Homo sapiens: one gene and its partners. The protein of the gene in region 4 interacts with the protein of the main gene of each other region in a biochemical or structural test. Each region holds a gene or a part of one and is shown on either strand. Other genes may lie near its edges.

Evidence for each region.
Region 1: the proteins of KHDRBS1 (region 4) and UBASH3B interact in a test that uses a peptide from one of them, tested with the Homo sapiens proteins (one study listed by BioGRID).
Region 2: the proteins of KHDRBS1 (region 4) and MYO7A interact in a test that uses a peptide from one of them, tested with the Homo sapiens proteins (one study listed by BioGRID).
Region 3: the proteins of KHDRBS1 (region 4) and DNMBP interact in a test that uses a peptide from one of them, tested with the Homo sapiens proteins (one study listed by BioGRID).
Region 5: the proteins of KHDRBS1 (region 4) and ARHGEF9 interact in a test that uses a peptide from one of them, tested with the Homo sapiens proteins (one study listed by BioGRID).
Region 6: the proteins of KHDRBS1 (region 4) and DOCK2 interact in a test that uses a peptide from one of them, tested with the Homo sapiens proteins (one study listed by BioGRID).
Region 7: the proteins of KHDRBS1 (region 4) and OSTF1 interact in a test that uses a peptide from one of them, tested with the Homo sapiens proteins (one study listed by BioGRID).

Annotation. Positions count from the first base shown.
Region 1 is NC_000011.10:122,777,722-122,781,221, forward strand, and holds part of UBASH3B (ubiquitin-associated and SH3 domain-containing protein B), read left to right. Parts: intron 1-1,775; coding exon 1,776-1,974; intron 1,975-3,500. UniProt on the Homo sapiens protein: Interferes with CBL-mediated down-regulation and degradation of receptor-type tyrosine kinases. Promotes accumulation of activated target receptors, such as T-cell receptors and EGFR, on the cell surface.
Region 2 is NC_000011.10:77,183,746-77,187,245, reverse strand, and holds part of MYO7A (unconventional myosin-VIIa), read right to left. Parts: intron 2,659-3,500; coding exon 2,531-2,658; intron 1-2,530. UniProt on the Homo sapiens protein: Myosins are actin-based motor molecules with ATPase activity. Unconventional myosins serve in intracellular movements. Their highly divergent tails bind to membranous compartments, which are then moved relative to actin filaments.
Region 3 is NC_000010.11:99,950,948-99,954,447, forward strand, and holds part of DNMBP (dynamin-binding protein), read right to left. Parts: intron 1-3,500. UniProt on the Homo sapiens protein: Plays a critical role as a guanine nucleotide exchange factor (GEF) for CDC42 in several intracellular processes associated with the actin and microtubule cytoskeleton.
Region 4 is NC_000001.11:32,037,868-32,041,122, forward strand, and holds part of KHDRBS1 (KH domain-containing, RNA-binding, signal transduction-associated protein 1), read left to right. Parts: coding exon 1-169; exon of another isoform or gene 170-252; intron 253-684; coding exon 685-752; intron 753-1,647; coding exon 1,648-1,706; intron 1,707-3,255. UniProt on the Homo sapiens protein: Recruited and tyrosine phosphorylated by several receptor systems, for example the T-cell, leptin and insulin receptors. Once phosphorylated, functions as an adapter protein in signal transduction cascades by binding to SH2 and SH3 domain-containing proteins.
Region 5 is NC_000023.11:63,652,715-63,656,214, forward strand, and holds part of ARHGEF9 (rho guanine nucleotide exchange factor 9), read right to left. Parts: intron 3,024-3,500; coding exon 2,780-3,023; intron 1-2,779. UniProt on the Homo sapiens protein: Acts as a guanine nucleotide exchange factor (GEF) for CDC42. Promotes formation of GPHN clusters.
Region 6 is NC_000005.10:170,077,775-170,081,274, forward strand, and holds part of DOCK2 (dedicator of cytokinesis protein 2), read left to right. Parts: coding exon 1-63; intron 64-1,200; coding exon 1,201-1,372; intron 1,373-2,388; coding exon 2,389-2,509; intron 2,510-3,500. UniProt on the Homo sapiens protein: Involved in cytoskeletal rearrangements required for lymphocyte migration in response of chemokines. Activates RAC1 and RAC2, but not CDC42, by functioning as a guanine nucleotide exchange factor (GEF), which exchanges bound GDP for free GTP.
Region 7 is NC_000009.12:75,140,514-75,144,013, reverse strand, and holds part of OSTF1 (osteoclast-stimulating factor 1), read right to left. Parts: intron 3,181-3,500; coding exon 3,082-3,180; intron 1-3,081.

The DNA of each region.
Region 1 (3,500 bases), on a different chromosome or scaffold from region 4:
CCAATTTTTGTTGTTGTTGTTGTTTTGAGACAGAGTCTCACTCTGTCACACAGGCTGGAGTGCAGCAGCATGATCTCGGCTCACTGCAACCTCCACCTCTCGAATTCAAGCGATTCTCCTGCCTCAGCCTCCCAAGTGGCTGTGATTACAGGCATATGCCACCATGCCCGGCTAATTTTTGTATTTTTAGTAGAGACGGGGTTTCACCATGTTGGCCAGGCTGGTCTTGAACTCTTCACCTCAAGTGATCCGCCCACCTCAGCCTCCCAAAGTGCTGGGATTATAGGCATGAGCCACCATGCCTGGCCTCTACTGACCAAATATAATCCCCCTCACTATCACACATGTAAATACATTTTGTCTACTTTAGCTCTCTGTGGTAATAGAGAAGAGTTGATTTATCTCCATATATTCAAGACCAAACAAAGTGGTAGCATTTTAAACCATTTTTATAAAAAATATTTTGCTTTCTTCCCCAGATATATTCTCTCTCTTTTTCTCTCTCTCAGGTAATAATAATGTTCCTAACACCTTCTCTTTTACCATTCACTCTGAAAATTAAAGTGACTGTCATTTCCTCTTAGTCATCCCAGGATCTTTCTCAAAACCCTTCAGAGTTTGAGAGACGTTCATTCTTTTTTCCAATGCTCTCAGGAAGGTAGGAGGATGATGTCACAGCTCTCTGGGACTCATTCTTCCCAACTATCATGAGGGTGGATGTAGAGTCAACTTCTGATCATCTAAGAGGAAAAGAAAAGTACAGATGATACAAAATAGTAGAAAACACGCAGCTTCTCCTGGGATGCTGCACTCTCTCCTGTCACATTCCTTCATTTTTTTTTTTTTTTCACAAGCAAGGAGAACTTTGATTTTTTTTTTCTTTTTCTTTTTTTTTTTTATGGATATATAGTCTCTCTCTGTCACTCAGGCTGGAGTGCAGTGGCGTGATCTTGGCTCACTGCAACCTCTGCTTCCCGGGTTCAAGTGATTCTCCTGCCTCAGCCTCCCAAGTAGCTGGGATTATAGGCGTCCGCCACCATGTCTGGCTAATTTTTGTATTTTTAGTAGAGATGGGGTTTCACTATGTTGGTCAGGCTGGTCTCAAACTCCAGTCCTCAAGTGATCTGCCCGCCTCAGCCTCCCAAAGTGCTGGGATTACAGGCATGAGCCACTGCGCCCAGCCTGATTTTTTTCTAATTGATAAAAATTATATACATTTATGGCGTATAACATGATGGTTGAATATATGTATGCATTGTGGAGTGCCTAAATCAAGCTAATTGTACATGCATTACCTCGCATGCTTATCAGGCATTTGTGGTGAGAACACTTAAACTCTACTCTCTTAGTAATTTTCAAGCATATAATATGTTATGATGAACTATAGTCACTGTGCTGTACAATAGGTCTCTTGAACTTATTTCTCCTAAGTGAAGTTTTACGTCCTTTGACCAATATCTCCCCAATCTCGCTCCCCTTTCTTGCTTTCGGCTCAACCAGTCCTGCAGCATTTTGGCTGGGTTCACGGGGGCCACTTCACAGCAAGGAAAGGAGGGAAGAGGTCATGTGTTCCCCACATTAATCCACCAGTTGGGTAATCTGTGTCTGAATAATTGGAAGTCTGCAGTTCCTCTCTCCCCACAGACAGGGGTAGTGGTTAAGTAATTGCATTATCAGCCTCCTCCAGTCTCTGGGGAGAGGATGCCAATGTTAAGTAGCAGCAGACTTCCATCTCCCCTTGTCTCTGAGTGAAGACTGCCTGTTTTCCCTGCCAGTGCGAGGACAGCAAGGTGGATGCCCTGGGGGAAGCCCTGCAGACCACGGTCAGTCGCTGGAAATGTAAGTTCTCGGCCCCGCTGCCCCTGGAGCTCTATACGTCGTCCAACTTCATCGGCCTCTTTGTAAAGGAAGACAGTGCGGAGGTCCTCAAGAAGTTTGCTGCTGACTTTGCTGCAGAGGCTGCATCCAAAACCGGTGAGCAAACAGCTGCCAGGCCAGCCCTGGGCCCTGTCAATCAAAGAGTTGGAAAGGAAAAAGGATAGGAAATAGTGGTAGAGGAGCAGGATGGGGTCAGGAGGTGGAGGACCCTGCAGGAATGGACGTGTGACAAAAAAACAGCCTTTTCCTGCAGCACCCCACGTCTTGCTCCCTTGTAAAAACGTTCAACCCCTCTTCTGCTGACCTGGAGAGACCGTCTAAGGCTTATTCCCTAACACCCAAGTTGAAGTTTCACAAATGACTTCCATACTGAACTAGAAATGTATTTCTTTGTAGCACCACCATCTCCTCCTAATTCAGAATTAAAGAAACATCCTTTCTCCCTCCCAAGCTCCCGCCCATGTAGGTGTTTATCTGGGTCTCATTGTTCACTCCATGACAATCCAGATCTTTTCTCAGTGGGTAGCAGAGGATAGAGAGAAGAGTGGAAGCACTTCGTATTATATCACAATAAAATCCACTGAACCAATACCCTTCAACTTGCTGAAAACCATTAGACAGGACCCCAAGCCCCAAGAGTCTGTCTAAAAATGTAACCCCTTCCAAATGTCTCCTGCTCTTCTCATGGGAGCTCTTAGTTCAGGACACCTGAGATTTCCTGTCAAAGGAATTAGCTTAAGGGGGTGCTCAAGGCAGGAGACACGATGGAGGTGAAAAGAGGGAGAAGTTTGCAAAGCTCTCCTGTCTGACTACAGGTGTGGACAAGCTCACTTAGCTCAATGACAGCAGGGAAACAGACAGACAATCTGGTGGGGGGAGAGCCTCTTGGCTCGCTCCAGCATGAAATCACAATTGGCAGGTACTTACTGGTCACCTACTATGAGGATTTCTCCTACATGAGGAGTGCTACAGGGAAGAGAACAAGAAGTGGTTTCTCCCGGCCAGGCCCTGTGTAACATCAGCTCTGAAAAGAGAAAGGGGTGGTTCTACCTTCACGGAAGGAAGGAAACTTGCCCTGGGACGATGTTGATCAGGACAATGGAGGAAAGGCCTGCAGGCGGGCGGGTGGCAGGAGCACAGGCAGGCAGGCATGAGATGGTGTGAGCAGAGGACAGTGGGGAGGCTGCCCTGACCAGAGTGGATGGTGCAGGATGCACAGTGGAAGCCGAGTGCTGAGTGCAAAGCTGGAGGAGACGTACAATTCCCCTACCCCTAATTTTAGGGAGTGCCAGAGAGGGGGAAGACCTGAGCAAGGCCGCAGTTTGCTCCTTAGCCTTTTGGCCTTTGGCCTATCCCTCACCTGCCATTGTTCCCTGCTGCTATTTTCATCACCATCTCAGGCCCTTTGTTCCATATTCCTCTTTACCAGAAAAGCACCACACAGGACTTGGGACCTATGAGTGGGATCGGGGCTCAGTATCACTGCAGGATCACAGTGCTCTCGGAAGGAACACAAGGACCTTAAGACCCCTCTGTACCTGGGGAGGGGTCCTCTTTAGACTTTGCAACCCCCACCCCCACCTCTTCCTCTCCCTCAGCGACGGGACTAGTCTCCGGGTCCT
Region 2 (3,500 bases), on a different chromosome or scaffold from region 4:
GCTCACTTCCCGTTTCTGTCACATTTTGGCAATACTAGAAATATCTCAAACTTTATTATTATATTTGCTGTGATCTGTGATCACTAATCTTTAACGTTACTATTGTAATTGTTTTGTGCACCATGAATCGTGCCCATAGAATATGGCAAACCTAACTGATAAATGTTAGATGTGTTCTGACTGCTCTACCAACCAGCCATTCCCCCATCTCACTCCCTCTCCTCACGCCTCCTGATTCCCTGAGACACATTCATATTGAAATTAGGCCAATTAATAACCCTAAAATGGCCTCTAAGTGTTCAAGTGAAAGGAAGCGTCGCACATTTTTCACTTTTAATCAAAAGCTAGAAATGATTAGAGAGGAAAGCATGTTGAAAGCCGAGATAGACCAAAAGCTGGGCCTCTTGTGCAAAGCAGTTAACCAACTTGTGAATGCAAAGGAATAGTTCCTGAAGGACATCAAAAATGCTACTCCAGTGAACATGCAAATGATAGGAAAGTGAAACAGCCTTATTTGCTGATATGGAGAAAATTTTAGGGGTCTGAATAGATCAAACCAGCCACAACATTCCCTTAAGCCAAAGCCTAATCTAGAGGAAGACTGTCTCTTCAATTCTATGAAGGCTGAGAGAGGTAAGGAAGTTGCAGAAGGTAAGTTGGAGGCTCACAGAGATCGCCTCATGAGGTTCAAAGCAAGAAGCTGTCTCCAAAATATAAAAGTGCAAGGTGAAGCAACAAGTGCTGGTGGAGAAGCTGCAACAAGTTTTCCAGAAGGTCTAGCTAGAATCATTGATGAAGGTGATTACACTCAACAGCAGATTTTCCATGTAGATGAACCAGCCTTCTATTGGAAGAAGATGTCATCTAGGACTTTCATAGCTAGAGAGAAGTCAATGGCTGGCTTCAAGGCTTCAAAAGACAGGCTGACTCTCCTGTCAGGAGCTAATGCACTGCTGACTTTCAATTGAAGCCAATGCTCAGTGACCATTCCAAAAATTCTGGGGCTCTTAAAAATTATGTACAAGAGGCTGGCTGCAGGGGCTTACACCTGGAATCCCAGCATTTTGGGAGGCTGAGGTGGGTGGATCACAGGGTCAGGAGTTCAAGACCAGCCTGGCAACATGGTGAAACCCCGTCTCTACTAAAAATACAAAAATTAGCTGGATGTGGTGGTGGGCACCTGTAGTCCCAGCCACTCGGGAGGCTGAGGCAGGAGAATTGCTTGAACCCGGGAGGCAGAGGTTGCAGTGAGCTGAGATGGCGCCACTGCACTCCAGCCTGGGCAACAGAGTGAGACTCTGTCTCCAAAAAAAAAAAAAAAAATGATGTACAAGGAGACGAATGTTATTTTCATGCCTGCTAATGCAACATCCATTCTGCAACCTATGGATCAAGGAGTAATTTTGGCTTTCAAGTCTTATTTAAGAAATACATTTTATAAGACTATTGCTGCCATAGATAGTGATTCCTCTGGTGGATCTGGGCAAAATCAATGGAAAAGCTTCTGGAAAGTATTCACTATTCTCAGTGCCATTCAGAACATTCATGATTCGTAGAAGGAGGTCAAATTATTAACATCAATAGGAGTTTAGAAGAAGTGGATTCCAAACTTCATGAATGACTGAGGGGCTCAAGACTTCAAGAGGAAGTAACTGCAGATGTGGTGGAAATAAATAGCAAGAGAACTAGAATGAGAAGTGGGGCCTGAGGATGGAACTGAGTTGCTGCAATGTCATGATCAAATTTCAGTGGATGAGGAGTTGCCTCTTATGGAGGAGCAAAGAAAGTGGTTTCTTGAGATGGAATCTATTGGTGAAGATGCTGTGAACATTGTTGAAATGACAACAAAGGATTTAGAATATTGCATCAACTTAATTGATAAAGCAGCAGCAGGGTTTGAGAGGATCGACTCCAATTTTGAAAGAAGTTCTACTGTGGGTAAAATGCTGTCAAACAGCATTGCATGCTACAGAGAAATTTTGTGTGAAAGCAAATCTCACTGTTGTCTTATCTTAATAAATTGTCGCAGCCACCTCGACCTTCAGCAACCACCACTCTGATCAGTCAGCAGCCATCAACATCAAGGCAAGACCCTCCAGCAAATAGATACAACTTTCAGATGACCATTAGCATTTTTGGCATTAATTTCTAATCAAGATGTCTACATTTTTTAGACATAATGCTATTTCATACTTCATAGACTATAGTATAGTATAAATATGACTTTTATATGCACTGGGAAACCAAAATATTTCTGCAGCTCTCTTTATTGTGATATTTATTTCTGTGGCCTTCAACTGAACCTGCAATATCTCCAAGGGATGCCTGTTTTAGGATTCCCCCTTTACAGACAAGGAATCAGAGGCTTAGAAAGATGAAATAACTCCACCAAGGTCCTAACTCCACCAACTAGCTAGCAGCGAAGCCAAACCCAGGCCTGCTTGGCTTAATCTCTTGCTAGGTTGACAGAGGCACCACTCAGCCACCAAAAGACTTTCAGGCCCTGGTGTCCCCGCCTCCCGGCACTGACCGGAGTGCTGGCCGCAGGATGCCATTGCCGATGATGAAGTGCAGCTTCTCCAGGTTGGAGGTGGGCCGGTCCTCCAGCATGCTGTTGCCCTGCACTGTGGACTCCCCGTCATGCAGCCTCTTGGTCACCTGGGCCAGAGGGAGAGGACAGGGCAGGTAAAGTTAGGGGTGTTCCCCTGCCAGCCAGGGCACCAGCACCCGAGGCTGCCTGCTCCCCAGAAAACAGAATCTAAGGAGTGAGCAGAAGAACTGGGCTCCCCATCACTGTCATTACCCCTGCCACGTGCACAGCAGATGCTGGGCCAATAACTGGCCCACACAGCAGGGGCACACTGGCCCGGTGCCACCCACTTCTGGGGACAGAGCTCCTCTGGCCACCTCCTCGATACCCTGCACCCCACACCCCACCCCAGGGAGGTCCTCTCAGCCAGGACAGGGACATGATCCTCTGACTCCAAGCGGGACCCCTATCTCTCTGGGGTGCCCCCGCCAACATAACTGTGGCACCTGGAGTATACTCCAGGTTCCAACCACCAGTCACCACCACTCTGTCACCAACACCCTTAGCCCCGATGTGACCAGCCTCACACCAGTTCTTATGAGATGTTTCTCCTCTCTCATCCCACACAGCCCACAGCACAAGCCCCGAGCTCTGCCCAGAGGATGTAGGGTGAGTGAGAGGCGAGCGGCAGGAGTGGGTGGTGCAGACAGGGAGCACCACTGAACACCCTCGGCTGCCATTTCTGCCTTCTTCCCAGGACCCCACGGAGTGGGCATTTTCTTCCCTGGGTCCCTTGAATACTAAGCGGCAGAGGTGGGATTCAAATCTGAGGCCACACACCTGCAAGGCTGGATTTGTGCCTCAGGTGGGGACAGGACAAGGGCAGAGGTGAAGTGGGAGCCCCTGACTCTGCAGTGGAGGAGCTGGGGAGGCTTCCTGGAGGAGGTGACCCCAGGCAGAGAAAGGAGGA
Region 3 (3,500 bases), on a different chromosome or scaffold from region 4:
GGCATGTCAGAGGTCTTCACGGCAACTGCACCCATCACAGGCCCAAAGGCCTAGGAGGAAAGAGTGATTTCCTGGGCTGTGCCCAGGATCACTATGCTGTGTGCAGCCTAGGGACTTGGTGCCCTGTGTCCCAGCTGCTCCAGCCATGGCTGAAAGGGGCCAATGTAGAACTCAGGCCATGGCTTCAGAGGGTGCAAGCCCCAAGCCTTGGCAGCTTCCATGTGGTGTTGAGCCTGCGGGTGCACAGAAGAACTGAGGTTTGGGAACCTCTGCCTCGATTTCAGAGGATGTATGGAAATGCCTGGATGTCCAGGCAGAAGTTTGCTGCAGGTGCAGGGCTCTCATGGAGAACCTCTGCTGGGGCAGTGCAGAAGGAAAATGTGGGGTCAGAGCCTCTACACAGAGTCCCTACTGGGGCACCACCTAGTGGAGCTGTGAGAAGAGGGCCAAAATCTTCCAGACCCCAGAATGGTAGATCCACCAACAGCTTGCACCGTGTGCCTGGAAAAGCTGTAGACACTCAACATCAGCCCGTGAAAGCAGCCAGGAGGGAGGCTGTACCCTGGAGAGCCACAGGGGCAGAGCCGCCCAACACCATGGGAACCCACCTCTTGCATCGGTGTGACCTCGTTGTGAGACATGGAGTCAAAGGAGATCATTTTGGAGCTTTAAGATTTGACTGCCCCACTGGATTTCAGACTTGCGTGGGGCCTGTAGCCCCTTTGTTTTGGCCAATTTCTCCCATTTGGAATGGCTGTATTTACCCAATGCCTGTATCCCCATTGTTTCTAGGAAGTAACTAACTTGCTTTTGATTTTACAGGCTCATAGGCAGAAGGGACTTGCCTTGTCTCAGATGAGACGTCGAACTGTGGACTTTTGAGTTAATGCTGAAATGAGTTAAGACTTTGGGGGACTGTTGGGAAGGCATGATTAGTTTTGAAATGTGACGACATGAGATTTGGGAGGATCCAGGCAGAATGATATGGTTTGGCTGTGTCCCCACTCCAAACTCATCTTGAATTCCTATGTGTTGTGGGAGGGAGCCGGTGGGAGATAATTGAATCATGGGGGCAGGTCTTTCCTGTGCTGCTCTCGTGAGAGTGAGTAAGTCTCATGAGATCTGATGGTTTTGAAAAATGGGAGTCTCCCTACACAAACTCTCTCTTTGCCTGCTATCATCCATGTAAGACGTGACTTGCTCCTCCTTGCCTTCCACCATGATTGTGAGGCCTCCCCAACCATGTGGAATTGTAAGTCCATTAAACCTCTTCATTTTGTAAATTGCCCAGTATCTGGTATCTTCATCAGCAGTGTGAAAATGGACTAATACAATATCTAATGCAAGAATTGTTTACAGGTTTATCTTGAAACTTGTAGGTATAGAAAGTGATGGAGAATCTGGAGTTTGCTAGGGCTTTGGGAATGTAACACTCAGCCAAGGTTCCCTCAGAATTCTTTTTCAGGGACTCTGAAATCAAGGTATCTGGCATTCCCCTGAGAGCTCAAGTACTCATATTAAATGAACACCTTTTTGAGGACTTGTCTAAGCATCTACTTCATGCTGTAGCTTGAGGGTAAATGCTCCTGCTGTTCAGTACAAGCAACCCAGCGGCCTGGCTCCCTAGCTATCCCCTAATCAATTACACTGAATGTGCTCTAGGACCCCTCCTACCGCACCATCTCTTAGTCTGCAGTTCCCTTAGAACTCTGCCCACATGCATAATAGTCCTTTCCTAAGAATATTTTGAATAGAGGTTTCCCTCTCTTTCTGCTATATCATCTTTCAGAAGATTACTTGATTTCCAATAATACTCTTTTTTATTGGAATTTTTTTATTCTATTATTTCCATTCACTTTTATAGACCTAAAGTAGAAAGGGAGGGAGGTAGCTATATGTGCTCAGTCTGCCATCTTGATCCAGGATCTCTGGATCACCATTCTGCTTTTATCTCTTATTAGTATCCTGCTATTCCTAGACCCCCTGGGTTGCTTTCTATTATTGACTTTCCTGATGACACATAAGTTCAAATCTCTGGTACACAAGCCAAAAGTGACATGTATTCACGTTCTTGGGCCCTAGACCAATTGCTGTTGGTTGCCTACCTCTTGTACTCTTCCTATTTATAAATTTTTTCTCCTGTGAGTCTGGTGAATATGAATGAAGTCTCCAGAGGCTTATCATTCCCAAATTAAGGGAAATAATTTGAATTTTCAGTGTGCCAGTATAGGAAGCGGTGAACTATAGTTGTTAGAAACATAAGCTTAAATCCCAACTCCCTTGGCAAGTCACTTAATCTCTTTTCAAATTTAATTTAAAACTTTTTTTTTTTTTAAGAGACAGGTCTCTCTATGTTGCCCAGGCTGCTCTTGAACTCCTGGGCTCTAGTGATCCTCCTACGTCGGCCTCCCAAAGTGCTGGTATTACAGGCTTGAGCCTACTCAATATCTATGTCTTAGTTTCCTCATCTATAGAGTAGCCATATGAATTATCATTGTACCTTTAGGGTAGCTGTGAACATTCTTCCTGTAGGCAAATTCTAACACATGCTTACTAATATGGTAATAAATGTTAGCTATTACTATTATTAAAATCTACTCCCTTGGCCAGGCATGGTATCCCAGCACTTTGGGAGGCCAAGGTGGGTGGATCACTCGAGGTCAGGAGTTTGAGACCAGCCTGGGCAATGTGACAAAACCCCATCTCTGCTAAAAATAGAAAAATTAGCCAGGCGTGGTGGCATGCACCTGTAATCTCAGCTATTCAGGAGGCTGAGGCATGAGATCACTTGAACCCGGGAGGCACAGGTTGCAGTGAGCCAAGATCTCACCACTACAGCCTGGGTGACAGAGTAAGACTCTGTCTCAAAAAAAAAAAGAAAAAAAAGAAATCTACTCTCTGGACAGCAAAGATACAAGATGGAGTTTTCTCATGAGTCTTTCTTAACCTGGAAGTCTTTAGTGCTTAATGGAGCCTGATTAAAGAAAGTTCTACTTAGGGACTTCCCATCTGCACCACTGCTATGGATGCCATAGCAGAATAAGAGACATAAATGTCCCAGAGGTATATGTGTCTCCGAGGTATGAGATTCTTTTTTTTTTTGGAGACAGGGTCTCACTCTGTTGCCCAAGCTGGAGAGCAGTGGCATGATCATTGCTCACAGCAACCTCTGCCTCCCAGGTTCAAGCAATCCTCCCACCTCAGCCTCCCGAGTAGCTGGGACTACTGGGATATACCACCACTCCTGGCTAATTATTTTTTGTATTTTTTTGTAGAAGCAGGGTTTGGCCCTGTTGCCCAGGCTGGTCTCAAACTCCTGGGCTCAAGCAATCCACCCACCGCAGCCTTCCGAAGTGCTGGGATCACAGGTGTGAGCCACCGCACCCGGCAAGGTTTGAGATTCTTTATCTGAGCAGCAAATGAAGTCAGGAGGCTACAGCAGTCATAGGCTCAAAACAGAGTCAGAGGCTCAAGACAGCCTATCTAGGGTGATGAAATAA
Region 4 (3,255 bases):
GGTACGTGGTACACCAGTAAGGGGAGCCATCACCAGAGGTGCCACTGTGACTCGAGGCGTGCCACCCCCACCTACTGTGAGGGGTGCTCCAGCACCAAGAGCACGGACAGCGGGCATCCAGAGGATACCTTTGCCTCCACCTCCTGCACCAGAAACATATGAAGAATATGTAAGAAATTTGAACAATGTGCCATTTCCCAGTACCTAGAAGGCTGCTAAAGGAAGTTGAATGACAGGGCCTCGGTCCTTTATGTAGGTGTCATGGACTGCCTGTAAGATTTGCAATCTGCCCTCTTCTCTTGCAGTGAATGTTGAACTATTAGAAGATTTTTCCATTTTAGGCAGGGTTTTACTATACGCCTGTAGATTAAACAAGAAATAAAATGTACTTTAATGTAGTATTTTATAATGAATTTCTTACTACTAGTACTGATAATACTAAAGCTCGATTTTGTACTTTACTTCCTGCCCACACTTCTTCTGTGGCATATCATATTTGTTTGGGTTTTCTTTGTTTAGTAACCCTTTCTCTTTTGACTATTCTACAGTAGGCATTAACATTTTGGAGGGAAATGTCATGTCCTTTTAATTCAGAAGCCTACTTACTCCCATGGGATGTAATTACCTTTCCTACTCTCTATGATTTTGATCTTTTATTTCATTTTTTTGTTGTTGTTGTTCTAGGGATATGATGATACATACGCAGAACAAAGTTACGAAGGCTACGAAGGCTATTACAGCCAGAGTCAAGGGTGAGTCAGGCAGTATAAGCACTGTTTTTTGTCCTGAGGATGGATGGAGGGAGTTGGAGGAACAGAGAGATTTAGACAGTACAACCCTAAGGAGCAGAATGGTTCGCCTTTTGAGGGTATCTCCTCTGCAACCCCCACAGTCCTGACTGGTCTTGAACTCTTGAGCTCAAGCAGTCCTCCCACTTTAGCTCTCTCTAGTAGCTGGGGTTACAGGTGCGTGCCACCATGCAATGCTTTCCTCTGCGTTTGACATCTGTGAAGCACACACTTGGATTTGTAAATCTGGATAACTGTGAACCTTAAATTATAATTTAGAACCTGAGAGTAACAAATGAAAAATTTCCAAGCTGTGACTACATGGAAACAAGGAGAAATGCCTTTATGTTATTTTGATTTATTATTTTAAAATATCAAAACCACATTAAAGCTCCATAAAATTTTACAAGAAACTTGAATTCCATTACCATAACTTAGGTTCTTTTCTGCATTTCTCTTTAAGACCATTTCCTTGTGTGTCCATATATATAGCTTACCTGTGAATTGATTGAAAAAGAGTTCCAGAATTCTACAGCAGTGATAAAACAGTTCTTTTTTCCTTCTGGTGAGCCCTATGAATACATGTATATATATGCTATATTAAAAGGGTCAATTTAGGATTGTGCTTTTTCACTTTATATTCTGTGGTATCCATTTTTCTTTGCAATAGTTGTCAATTATTTTATAAGTACATAGTCTATACATATTTTGGAAATACTTTACGGTTTAGGGATGGGGCAGAATGAGTATTTTCCTGTATTAATACACTTAGTAAAATGACTGACTTATGGAAGTATTTGAGAGAAAGTTGAAACATAGTTACTCTGTAGCTTCCTAACACTCTGCCTTTGGCTTTCAGGGACTCAGAATATTATGACTATGGACATGGGGAGGTTCAAGATTCTTATGAAGCTTATGGTATGTCTTTATCTCTGTGGTGGGGCAGAATGTACAAGTAAGTGCCTGGGAGAATGCTGGTGACTAAAGTATTGAGAGTCAGACAAACACACCTACGGATAAACCTTTAGAAGGCCAAGATTTTGCTAGATGTGACAGTAAGAGTTCTGCTCTTGCTTAAATTTTGCGGTACATGGTAGAAAGAGGGACTGCTAAAGTGAGGTGGGGTATCGTTACTCTTGGAAGGGTAGTGTTTGTCTTAAACAAGGGCTCAAGACCAGCTTGGCCCTGGTTGGAGCAGCAGACTTATAAGCTAATGTTATTTTTTTTCTACTTTAGGCAGGGAAATAGCTAGACCTGGGTTGTATTTCTGGGCCTTTGCTGCCGATATCTAGGCCACTTTGGTAGATAACAAGAACTTAATCGTACACAACTGTACTCATCTACCCCATTTCATTAAAAAAAAAATTTAGATCTCATTGAAAAGAATGTCATTGTAAAGGAAATGTCAGCTGAAAGGGACCTAGATGGCAAGCAGCTAGCCAGACCAGGTTGCGGGGCAAGAATAGTGCCTATTAGGGCCGGGCGTGGTGGCTCATGCCTGTAATCCCAACACTTTGCGAGGCCGAGGCAGGCGGATCACCTGTGGTCAGGAGTTCGAGACCAGCCTGGCCAAGATGGTGAAACCCTGTCTCTACTAAAAATACAAAAAAATTAGCCAGGTGTGGTGGTGGGCGCCTTTAATCTCAGCTACTTGGGAGGCTGAGGCATGAGAATCACTTGAACCTGGGAGGCGGAGGTTGCAACGAGCTGAGACCGTGCCATTGCACTCCAGCCTGGGCAACAAAAGTCCGTCTCAAAAAAAAAAAATAGTGCCTATTAGAATCAGATTAGAGGCTGTAGGGGCTAGAGCCAATAATTCAGGACAGTACTGGCACCAAGCTCCTTGTTGGCTTGAAGACATCAACACAGTCCTTGATCCCAAGAGAGCTATGGAGGCTGCAACAGCAGCAGGACAAGGCTGCCTTCCCTGAGGTTTGGTTAAAAACACATCGCTCAAGTGTGTCCTCAAGAGCCAGTTATGGCCCTGTGTTAATAGGCCTCACTGGGAATACTATGTGGCAGTGGATGCAGCGAGAGCTACCTTTTCAGTATAAGGTATTTTCAGCATACCTGAGGGACTTCCAGAGAGTCCTTGGCAGGGGCTCAGCGATTGACAGTTCACGCTAAGATACTGGTTGACAGTCTCCCCTTATCCCTAGCTGAAAAAGAGGAGCCCCTTAGGGCCTCCCAGAGACAGACAAGCTGAGCCCAACTCAGCACAGTATGAAGTAGCCAATCAGCTGCTTGCCCAAGGAAACTGTTTTTACCAGTTTTAGCGAAATAGCACTGGACAGTTGCCAATCACTAACACTGTGTGTGATTGCACCCAAGTATTTCCCTCCATCAGTGAGGCAGTACAGTGGGGCCTCTGTATGTGTTTGACTAAATTGCATTTCTGTTTTGCTGGAGAAAAGACCAAACTGAAAGAGGCAGGCTTCTCTTTGTGCTCCTGATACGACGTTGCCAC
Region 5 (3,500 bases), on a different chromosome or scaffold from region 4:
GATATAATCAAAGCCCCTGATACGGTTTGGCTCTGTGTCCCCACCCAAATCTCATGTGGAATGGTAATCCCCATGTGTTGGGGGAGGGGCCTAGTGGGAGGTGATTGGATCATGGGGGGAATTTCTCCCATGCTGTTCTCATGATAGTGGGTGAGTTCTCACGAGATCTGATGGTTTAAAAGTATGTGGCACTTCCCTCTTGCTCTCTCTCTCTCCTGCCACTATGTGAAGAAGATGCTTGCTTCCCCTTTGCCTTCTACTATGATTCTAAATTTCCTGAGGCCTCCCAGTGATGCTTCCTGTTAAGCCTGCAGAACTGTGAGTCAATTAAACCTCTTTTCTTCATAAATTACCCAGTCTCAGGTATTTATAGCACTGTGAACATGGGCTAATACAGGCCCTAATCAGTTGACTTTATATAAGGGACAATATCCTAGATAATCTGGATGGACCTGACTGAATCTGTTGCAAGACCTTAAAAGTAGAGCCTAGGTCTCACACAGAAAGGGCAGAAATTCTACCTGTGCACCACAGCTTTAGCCCATGTCTGTGCCACTTCATCCTTCTCATGAGCTTCTCTTCCTGACTGCCTGTAGATGACAGCTTTGGCCTATGTCCATGGGTTTGAGCCTGCCTGTGATCCTCCATTTCTGACTGCCTGCTCTATGGAATTCTGAGCCACTTAGTCAACATTCACAATCACATAAGCCAATTCCTTGTAATGCAATTTTCAGCAGTGGTATGATATATCTCCTACAGGTTATGCCTCTTTGGTTGAACCCTAACTGATACAAGGGGTTATAGTTAGATTCTATATTATTTATCTGGGGAGTTACTTATGATAAATTAAGTTTAAAAAAGCAACCTACAAGGTAATATATATAATATAATTTTTGTAAATATAAAAGTATTATGTTTGTATATGTTTATATGGACATGAGATAAGTATGGAAAGATGCATACTGCACTGTTAACACTGGTTATTTCATTCAGTATGGAAGTGACAGAGAAGGGGAAGGAATGCTAAGTTTTCTTTATATATTTCCATATTTGTTTAAATGGTTATAATGGTCATGCATTAATTTTATAATTAAAAAGTAAAAGTTTAAAAAAGCTATGATAAAACTATATGACCCTCATAAAATAATGATTAAAAATATGAAGTGATCTGATAGAAATGCTAATGATATAATGATGAGTGAAAATGAGGATACAAAATTATATCTATCCACTATAGAGAGGCAGGTATGGGGAGAGAAAGAAAAAAGATTCAGTCACCTTGATTTTTCTAATTAGACACATAAAAAAGGCTGGAAATATATATCAAAATGTTTATGAAAGTTATTACTGAGTATGTTCATGTGTTTTTTTTTTTTCTTGTACTTTTCTGTTGCTTTTTCCCTAAATTTCCTACAATGGAAGTGATTTACTGTTATTATCAAACCAAAAAAAAAAAACCTCAACATTTTTAAAGATGAACATATGCCTGTTCAGAAAGTAATTTCTAGAAGCTTTTCTATTAGAAGCAGATAAAGTCACAGGTTTATTAGGGCATTGTGTGGGAGACATTGTGTTAGAGCCAATGGGAATGGCAGGGGCCTTCTAATTGATTCAGGGTCTGAACACTAAGACCATTCCTTTAATAACTCTAACAGCCTAGGCAAGGTCAGTGGCTGCTGCTGCTTGCTATTGAGAGAAGTAGCCAGCAACATTTATATGCCACTCCACATCATGTCCCAATGGAGTGTCCACATACTGAAAGCAGTCTGATTCCAATGAGACTCAAAGTGAGTTATTAATTTGCACTCTACCCAAGTTCTGAGGAGAAGACTGGAGTTAGATTTGTCTTTCTGACCATCCTTTCTTACCTCTGGATAATTTCAATCGCCCACATGGAAGGATAAGAGAACCCTTTTGCACCAGGATTCAATGAGTAGGCCCATTTTTCTAGAGACAATTTCCATAAACTTGAGCTTTCAGGCCTTCTAAAGTACAATTTCACTCCCATAAGCAATAGGGCAAAGACAGAAACTGTATGTCTTCTCAGGGAATTAACAAGTCTGGTTGCTTGGTATTTTTTATGACAGAAAGGCAGGACCATGAGCAAGAGACCAGACAGTACTTTATAAGTCACAAAGCTATAGCCAATGGCGTCTAAATCCCACAGTTGGGAAGCAACATGAAAAATATCTCTACTATCTATATCCCCACTGGAAAAGAGAAACAACTTATTGTAAGGCAAAAAAGTATGTTTCAGTGTGATTTGAAATCATGAAAATGGTCATGGTTTTAAGTCCTGTTATATTTTCTATAATTTACTTTAAATACTTCCACACAGAAAGTGTGAAGTGTATGTGCATATTATTTGAATCTACAGTCTAGGGGGATTTAGTTAACATCTGAAGTATCCTAATCAGGAGTACAAACTATATACCTAATGACAGAGAGCTCAGGCTTTATGAAGATTACAGAACAGGTTGTATAACTGATTTTTGTTTATTTGCTAATAAATGTATGTTTGGGAGAATCAAGCCTGAGGCTGGCTTTCAGTGTGATATTCTTAGCTAGTAGGGGAGGACAACCTATAGTTCAAACCTACCACTGACTAATGGAAGCTATTGGTACTTACCAAAAAGAACCTAATAATAAGGAACCACCAAAGTAGCTTAAGTCAGTTTGCAACAGAAATCTTCCCTCTGACTCCAAGAAAATGGAAACCAATTCAAACCTCCTATGTTCTTCATAGCCATGTTCTTCTTTCTACTCTCAGGTCACTTACCAATTTTTTCATCTTCCTGTACCATTTTCCTCTCTTCTCTGAAAGCCCTGAGCCAGCGTATTTTTTCCTCCAGCTTCTTGGCAAAGAACAGATGTATCTCCTCAGTCTCCTTGTTGTGAAGCTTAAAGGCATTCTTCATGCTGACATTGAAGTCATCATCTCTGCCATCCTCAATGTCAACTACCTCATATTTATCCATGTCAATGCGGCCTTTGTAGTACAGGATGTCTCTCCGGATTAGGTCCTAGATGGGAAGGAAGAGGTTTCTTGAAGGTATGTGCACGGCGAGTACTAGAAGAGTTGGCACAGGGGCACAGCAGAATGCTAACACTGTCACCGTTTTGAAGTACCAATGGGGGTTGGTTTGTTCTAAATTTGGCCAGGTTATACTAGTAGTCTGACACTGACAGGTTGGTTAACTAGATGCCCAAAGAAAAAGCCTCTGTCTCACCTCGAAAGATCATTTCAGACACCAGAATCAATCCTTGGACGTGTGTGCAAGTCTGCTGATGGGAGGTAGGAAACAGTAAGCCACATAAACACGGCTAGCAAGGGCTTCTCCTTTTCGAAAACATCAGCAAGCCCACTAGAGGTATGAAATGAGCTGGCTGGTTGCCTGGAGTGTGTTCAAATATCTGTGCAGGCCAGTGAGACCTGAACATCAGAGGGGGACTGAGTAGTAAGAGTAGCTAGGAGGCCACAGACTGCTGGCAAAGGATTA
Region 6 (3,500 bases), on a different chromosome or scaffold from region 4:
CATCATCTCTCTGGCTTCCATGAATTCTGACTGCAGCACCCCCAGCAAGCCTACCTCAGAGAGGTCAGTCCCTGCACCCCAAGGAGCCCCCCACACCCCTGCCTCCCTGGCTCTATCCCCCCTCCTTCTCTCTCTTCTCCGGCAACATCCCTTCTACCTTTCCCTTCCTCCTTTCAGTTTAAAAGCCTTTTCCCATCTGCAGTCTCACAACTACCCCAGGAGGCTCATGGTTAGTACCATTTTTAGGGGATTATCAGAGGCTCAGAGAGGCAAGGCAGCTTTCCTGAGGACCCAGCAGGAGTCACCTGCAGCCCCCAGACTTCTAGTCCAGTGATCTCTGTCAGCCAGGCAGAGCTCCTCACCAAGCCTGCATCCTTCTGGAATATTGTCACCTCTCATAGGGATCTGTTCCCTTTCAAGGAAGCTCCTCCCAACCACGATGGGATGTCTCCATTGCAGAGCTCTTCCTCCTGCACCACCTACCCACCCCTCTGTCGGGGGTCTTCCCTCCCTTGCCCCTTCCACCTTCCTGGAGCCCTCTGGCCATCATTGTTGGACCCTCCAGAAACTTCCCTGCGGGCCTCAGAGGTTACTCTTGCCCAGAGGGAAAAGGATGGAAACGTCTTCTGTTTCACAGTTCTAGGGGGCATCATTCACAATTCTAGGGGGCACCATTCACCCTGCCCAACTCATCTGTTCTAATCATAGATACATGAGCAACCCAGCACTTACCATATGCCAAGAATATGCCAAGGGTTCCTCAGACATCATCTCATGGCCACTCTGCAAGGTCTCTGCGAAGACCTCCATTTACTGAAAAGGAAATGATGGCTTGAAGAGGTTGAGTGATTTACCCAAAGTTATTCATTCAGCTAAGAACTGGCCGTGCCTGGATTTGAATCCACATTCATGCTTTCAACCAGTCTTCTCTCCTCACCACCAGTTTCTTTTCTATGGCTCACTTCTTTCAATTTCATTTTACCACGAATAAAATAAAGTGAACTTTACTCATCACATTTAACTGTTTGTGCATTGAGCAAGTTGCTCCCCAAATCCTCTGCCAGATTTGCTGATCTACTCCAGACCCTGTAGTGACAGCTCAGGCAGCCCAAAGGTCCCCTTCAGCTTCCTGGGTCCTTGCAAGGCAGTTCTACTGAAGCTCTAACTGCAGTTTCTATTGCTGCCCCTCTGGCCTTTCAGCTTTGACCTGGAATTAGCATCACCCAAGACGCCGAGAGTGGAGCAGGAGGAACCGATCTCCCCGGGGAGCACCCTGCCTGAGGTCAAGCTGCGGAGGTCCAAGAAGAGGACAAAGAGAAGCAGCGTAGTTTTTGCGGATGAGAAAGCAGCTGCAGAGTCGGACCTGAAGCGGGTGAGTGGCTGAGGCAGATTGCCTCTCCAGCGCTGTTAGCACATTTCCACTACATGCTGGGCACAAAACCCAGGGCTTCCAGATATGGGCTTCCTGAAGCCTGCCACTGCGGTGCTATGGGTATTGCAGAGGCGGCACCTGAGGAGCTGAGAGGTGAAGTGCTTACTCGTGCCCAGGCAGCTGGGGTGGCTGGGACATGACAGAGCTGGGAGTTGAGCCCTGACCTTTGCACTTCAGAGCCTGTGTGTATCCTTTCCACCATCACACAGGGCTTTTCCAGGCTGGGGAGAATCCACCTGTTCTCCCACCAAAAGGGAGAGCAGCCCACTTGGTACTGAGCTAGGTGTTTCTATAGCCCCCAGCCCCAGGCCTATTCTAACCACTGATGTCTCAGACCCCTGCAAGCCCCTCCTGTGTGCCAGGAGTCCAGGTGGGGATACAGGGATGAAATCTCACTGTCCTGGCTTTGAGAGTGTTGGTCTTGTAAACTAACGATTATTTAAAAATGAGACTTGGTTTCAGACAGCCCTGGATTCAATCTTAGTTTCCCCCTGGAAAAGAGGTTTGTTGGAAGTGTTCTGGGAACCTGGGAGTGGGAGATGGATTAACTGCCCTGGCAAGGGAGGGGTGCCAAATGAAAGAGCAAGGGGCCAACCAAGATGCCTTAGTGAAGAAAGGGCCCTCCAGAAACTTCCCAGTGGGCCTCGCAGGCTACTCTTGCGTGGATGGATAAGAATGGAAATGTCTTCTGTGTTTGTCGATTCTAGGGGACACCATTTACATGATAGTCTAAATGAATGTCCGCCACCCCCGCCTGTAGTTGTGTAGTGTGCAACCTGTGCAACCATATGTGGCAGGCTGGCATGGAATGGTATAATACAGAATAAATGAACTTGGAGCCAGCTTCATAGAAACCATGCCACGCCCTCCTCACTGATCTTTCAGAGACCCAGATCTGCCTCATGCTAAGCCTCTGTCTTTGTGTGTGTGTGTGTGTGTCTGGTGTATTCCTCCAGCTTTCCAGGAAGCATGAGTTCATGAGTGACACCAACCTCTCGGAGCATGCGGCCATCCCCCTCAAGGCGTCTGTCCTCTCTCAAATGAGCTTTGCCAGCCAGTCCATGCCTACCATCCCAGGTATGCCCCCTGCTGCCACCAGCATGAGGGAGTAGAGATAGTGCAGGCCACCAGCCTTGTGGGTGGAGGATGGATGGGAACTGTGTCTACACAACAAAGTGGGCCAGGCATCCTGGAGTGAGAGGCTCTGCTCATAGCCACCCACCCTCTAATCTCTCCCCACACCCACCACTTCCTGGGGGTGACACCATCCCAGCAAGCTCCAGCAGGGACAGGGGAGAGGCCTGCTGTCCCTTGGGCCCTCAGGATTCACTGAGCATCCATTTGTCACACTAGGTGGCCCCTTGTTCTCAGTTAGCCAGGCCTCCCCAGGGGCCAGAAGTTTGCCCTTGGTATGTCCCTAAGACCTGTGGCTTCTTTGTGGACCTGGAAGACTCTTTCTGGCTTTACAGAAATGGCCACCACATCTTATAGCTGCAAAGTGTTTGGTGCATAGATGCTACCTATCTGCCACCGTCGTCACTCACTCACTGTCCAGTGAGGAGGTTAGAGCACAGCCGATGGTCCTAACTCACAGAAGGGAATCTGAGGCCCTAACAGGGGACATGGCATGCCTGAGAGCACTCCATCTGGTAGGCAGAAGTCCTTGACGTCTGCTGCTATGTGCCTGGCTCTGTGTGCTAAGGGCCAGGTCAGAAGGGAACAAGACAGGACCAGTGCTGCCCTGTGGAACTCAGCAGGCCGATCATGGTGAAGACGCTTGCTGTTTCCTGAACATTGAGGGTGCCAGGCCCTGCGCCAACTGCTACTCCTTCTTTATTTCATTTACTCCACTGCGCATACCCAGGAAGTAGTTCATGTTATCCACCCCATTGTATGGATGAGGAAACTGGGGCACTGAGAACATCACTCTCTTGCCTATCACCAGCCAGCAAATGGCAGAGACTGAGTTCAGACCCAGGCCCTCTTCCCTGGAACAGGCACCTACCCACTGCCCCGCCACCACCCCCAGGATAGCCTGAACACAGCTGCAACATTTGGCCCAAGCCAT
Region 7 (3,500 bases), on a different chromosome or scaffold from region 4:
TGGATGGTTACTTCTGCTCTTTATTTTATTCTTACTTCTATTAAAAAGAGAGGATGATTTGCCACAGTGCAGACTCTGACTGAGTGGTCATCAAAAGACAGGCACAAGTCAGCAAATAAATTCCTTCTCCTTCTTTCCTTTCATGAACTGTTCTGAGGCAGTTTTCCCACATGGTCAGGTGTTGTGTGATGAGCCTGTATCTCTTCACAGCCCACCTCTGGGCATAGCACGCATAGGAATGTATCTTCCTGCAGCACTGCCATCCTTCCCTAGCTCACGTTCATTTTACCTCAGTCCCATCACCCTGGCTTTACATATCTCAAATCAAGAACCAGCACTTAAAACCAACCAACAAACATACAAACAATAAATAAATGATGGAGAAATAAACACAGGCATATGGATGACTCTCACAGACATAATGTAAATGAAAGAGGTCAGTCACAAAAAGTACATACTGTTTGATTCCATTTACATAAAGTTCACGAACGGGCAGAACTAATCTATGGTGAGAGAAGCAGAAGACACTGAGGGAGGCATGTGGCGTGTGGGAACTGTTCTCTAGCTTCATCTGGGTTGTGGTGAACAGGTGTAAAAAAAATTAATCAAGCTGTATGCTTAAGATTTATGTACTTACTTAATGTAAATTATACACAAATTTTTAAAAGTTGGAAAAAAATGTTAAAGGGCTCAACTCGAGTATAACCCCCAGCCCTATATCCTAGTTATCTTCCATAGTAACTGCAAAATGTGAATTTTTGTACTTATTAAAAAATCCACATTGTGCTTCTAAAAGTAGACAACAACTACCTTGGGAGGCCAAGGCAGGCAGATCGCTTGAGGTCAGGAGTTCGAGACCAGCCTGGACAAAAAAGGTGAAACCCCATCTCTGATAAAAATACAAAAATTAGCCGGGCATCGTGGCTCATGCCTGTAATCCCAGCTACTCAGGAGGCTGAGGCAGGAGAATCACTTGAGCCCGGGAGGCGGAGGTTGCAGTGAACTGAGATTGTGTCACTTCACTCCAGCCTGGGCAACAGAGTGAGACTCTGTCTCAAAAAAAAAAAAAAAGTGGACAACAATATCAGAATATACCTTTTCCAACTTAGAGTTCATGCTGACAATTAACTCTATGGCCAAATAGTCCAAACCTATTCCAATGAGGATCACAATACAAATTAACTGTATAATTGGGGAAATGAAGCAAGAAAAAACATTTTAAAAGTAACATGAAAATTGAAATATAAAAACTCATTTCTTGGCTCTGTCTGCCAGGCCCTAAGATTACCTCATTAATGAATCTATTACCTAATCAGTTCAAATTCAGGAAGGTAGACTAAACACACTTGGGGTGCACAGAGAAAAGAGTACCTGCCTCCCAGCCCTGTTCTACGAAGGCTGCAGAAAGGCTCATTACCTGCCTCCCTCAACTCAAACCACTCCTGAGTAAGGCTTCTGGGTAAGCTCTCTGAGGTCTAAGAAAGTTTGGTATATGCCTTGTCTATCAAAATGGAGCTCATAGCATGCATTAGACTCTGATACCTTCAGGTCATAAGAAGCCTTACTCTTCGGTCAGGACAGGCTAAGGGTAGCCACACAACAGGAAGTCAGTGGCAGAGAAAGGAAGTTAGGCCAGACTCCTACTTCCTGACCCAATCAAGGCAGCAAGGAGTAGGAGGTCGAACTCAAGCAGAAGTATGTCTCTCACACTATTGCAAATATGGCTTCTCAATCATAATGTAGCTGGGGAGCACCAGCTCAGCTGATACTTTCCCATTCCCTTAGTAGAACCCATCTCCATCTATCCATGAGGAATTACTTTAAAGAAAGGCTTGCACTCCCAGTGAGCTCTCATGGATTAATTAAGGAATACCAACTGATTAGCAGTTACACTATATTCAAACTGAAGTTAAAAAAAGAAAAGAAATCTGGAACAAAGACATATCTAGAATAAAGAACAAAAGGAGGCTGGGCACAGCGGCTCTCGCCTGTAATCCCAGTGCTTTGGGAGGCTGAGGCAGGAGGATGGCTTGAGTCCATGAGTTCGAGACCAACCTGGACAACATGGCAAGACCCCTATCTCTACATTAAAAAAAAAATTAGCTGGGCATGATGACACATGCCTGTAGTCCCATTTTCTCAGGAAGCTGAGATGGGAGGATCACGTGAGCCTAGGAGTTTGAGGCTGCAGTGAGCTATGATTGCACACCTGCACTCCAGGCTGAGCAACAGAGTAAGACTCCATCTAAAAAAATAATAATAATGTACATTTAAACTCTATTTTAAAAAACCACCCATAATACTATGAATAAAGTCCAGAAGATTTAGCAAAGTCTAGAATAAATTTGATTACAGTTTACTGATATCCTCATTTAAAACAGAAATAAAATATAATCATGGAGCTATTAAATGTTATTTTTAAAAATATTTAGTGGTAATCACTCATAAATACATATTTAAATGAGGGAATGAAGATGATCGTTCTCTGAAAAGGACTGTAATGGAAAGCAGGGTGATTAGAACTTAATTGCAAGGAATAAAAGAAACACACAATAAAGGTAAAAGATTATGTTTCTTGTCTAATTTCTGTTTAATTGAGGGTGTCCTATTTTGGGGGTTCTCATTAAGATCAAGGATATTGAAACAAACTTCAGAATCATCTGAAGAGTTTATCTTTTTTTTTTTTTTTTTTTTTTTTTTTGGTTTTCTTTTTTTGAGATATGGTCTTGCTCTCACCCAGGCTGGAATGCAGTGGTGCGATCACAGCTCACTGCAGCCTCAACCTCCCAGGGCTCAAGTGATCCCCCAGCTCAGCCTCCTGAGTAGCTGGGACTACAGGCCCACACCACAATGTCTGACTAATTTTTGGTACTTTTTGTAGAGACAGAGGTCTCACTTTATTGCTCAGGCTGGTCTCCAACTCCTGGGCTCAAGTGAACCTCCTGCCTTGGCCTCCCAAAGTGCTGGGATTACAGGTATAAGCCACTGCACTCAGCTGAGTTTATCTCTTTTGCGCCATTCTAAGTTAATAAATCTTAGTTATGGGGCACCAGAGGAGAAAGAAGAATTTAAAACAAATACCTGTTCCCTGTTTCTTTTTCAGGAGAGATGCACAGGCAGCATTGGTAGCCATGTCGAAGGCCAGCTTCTTCTCAATGTTTCTTAAGTCTGTTCTAGCACCTTCCCAACACAAGAAAAGTCAATTAGGTGTCTTTGAAGACTATATAGTAGTAGCCAATCCTCTCTCCCCACAGCTAACAACTTTTGGCAAAATAAACTAGTGAACAACTCTGGCTCAGAAGTAAACGTTCTCAAAACAATAAACTTTCTCATGCAGTATAATTTGGCATCTTTAATCGGGAAGCTTGTTGCTGCACCTGTGATAACAATTAATTCCGAACCTTTTGAGTCCCTATAGAATTGCATGTGAACTTTTCAGTGAGGAGTTTATGGTCCCTGTGGGGCTTGACTTCAATGAGCCCTTTGCTTCCTCTTTTGCT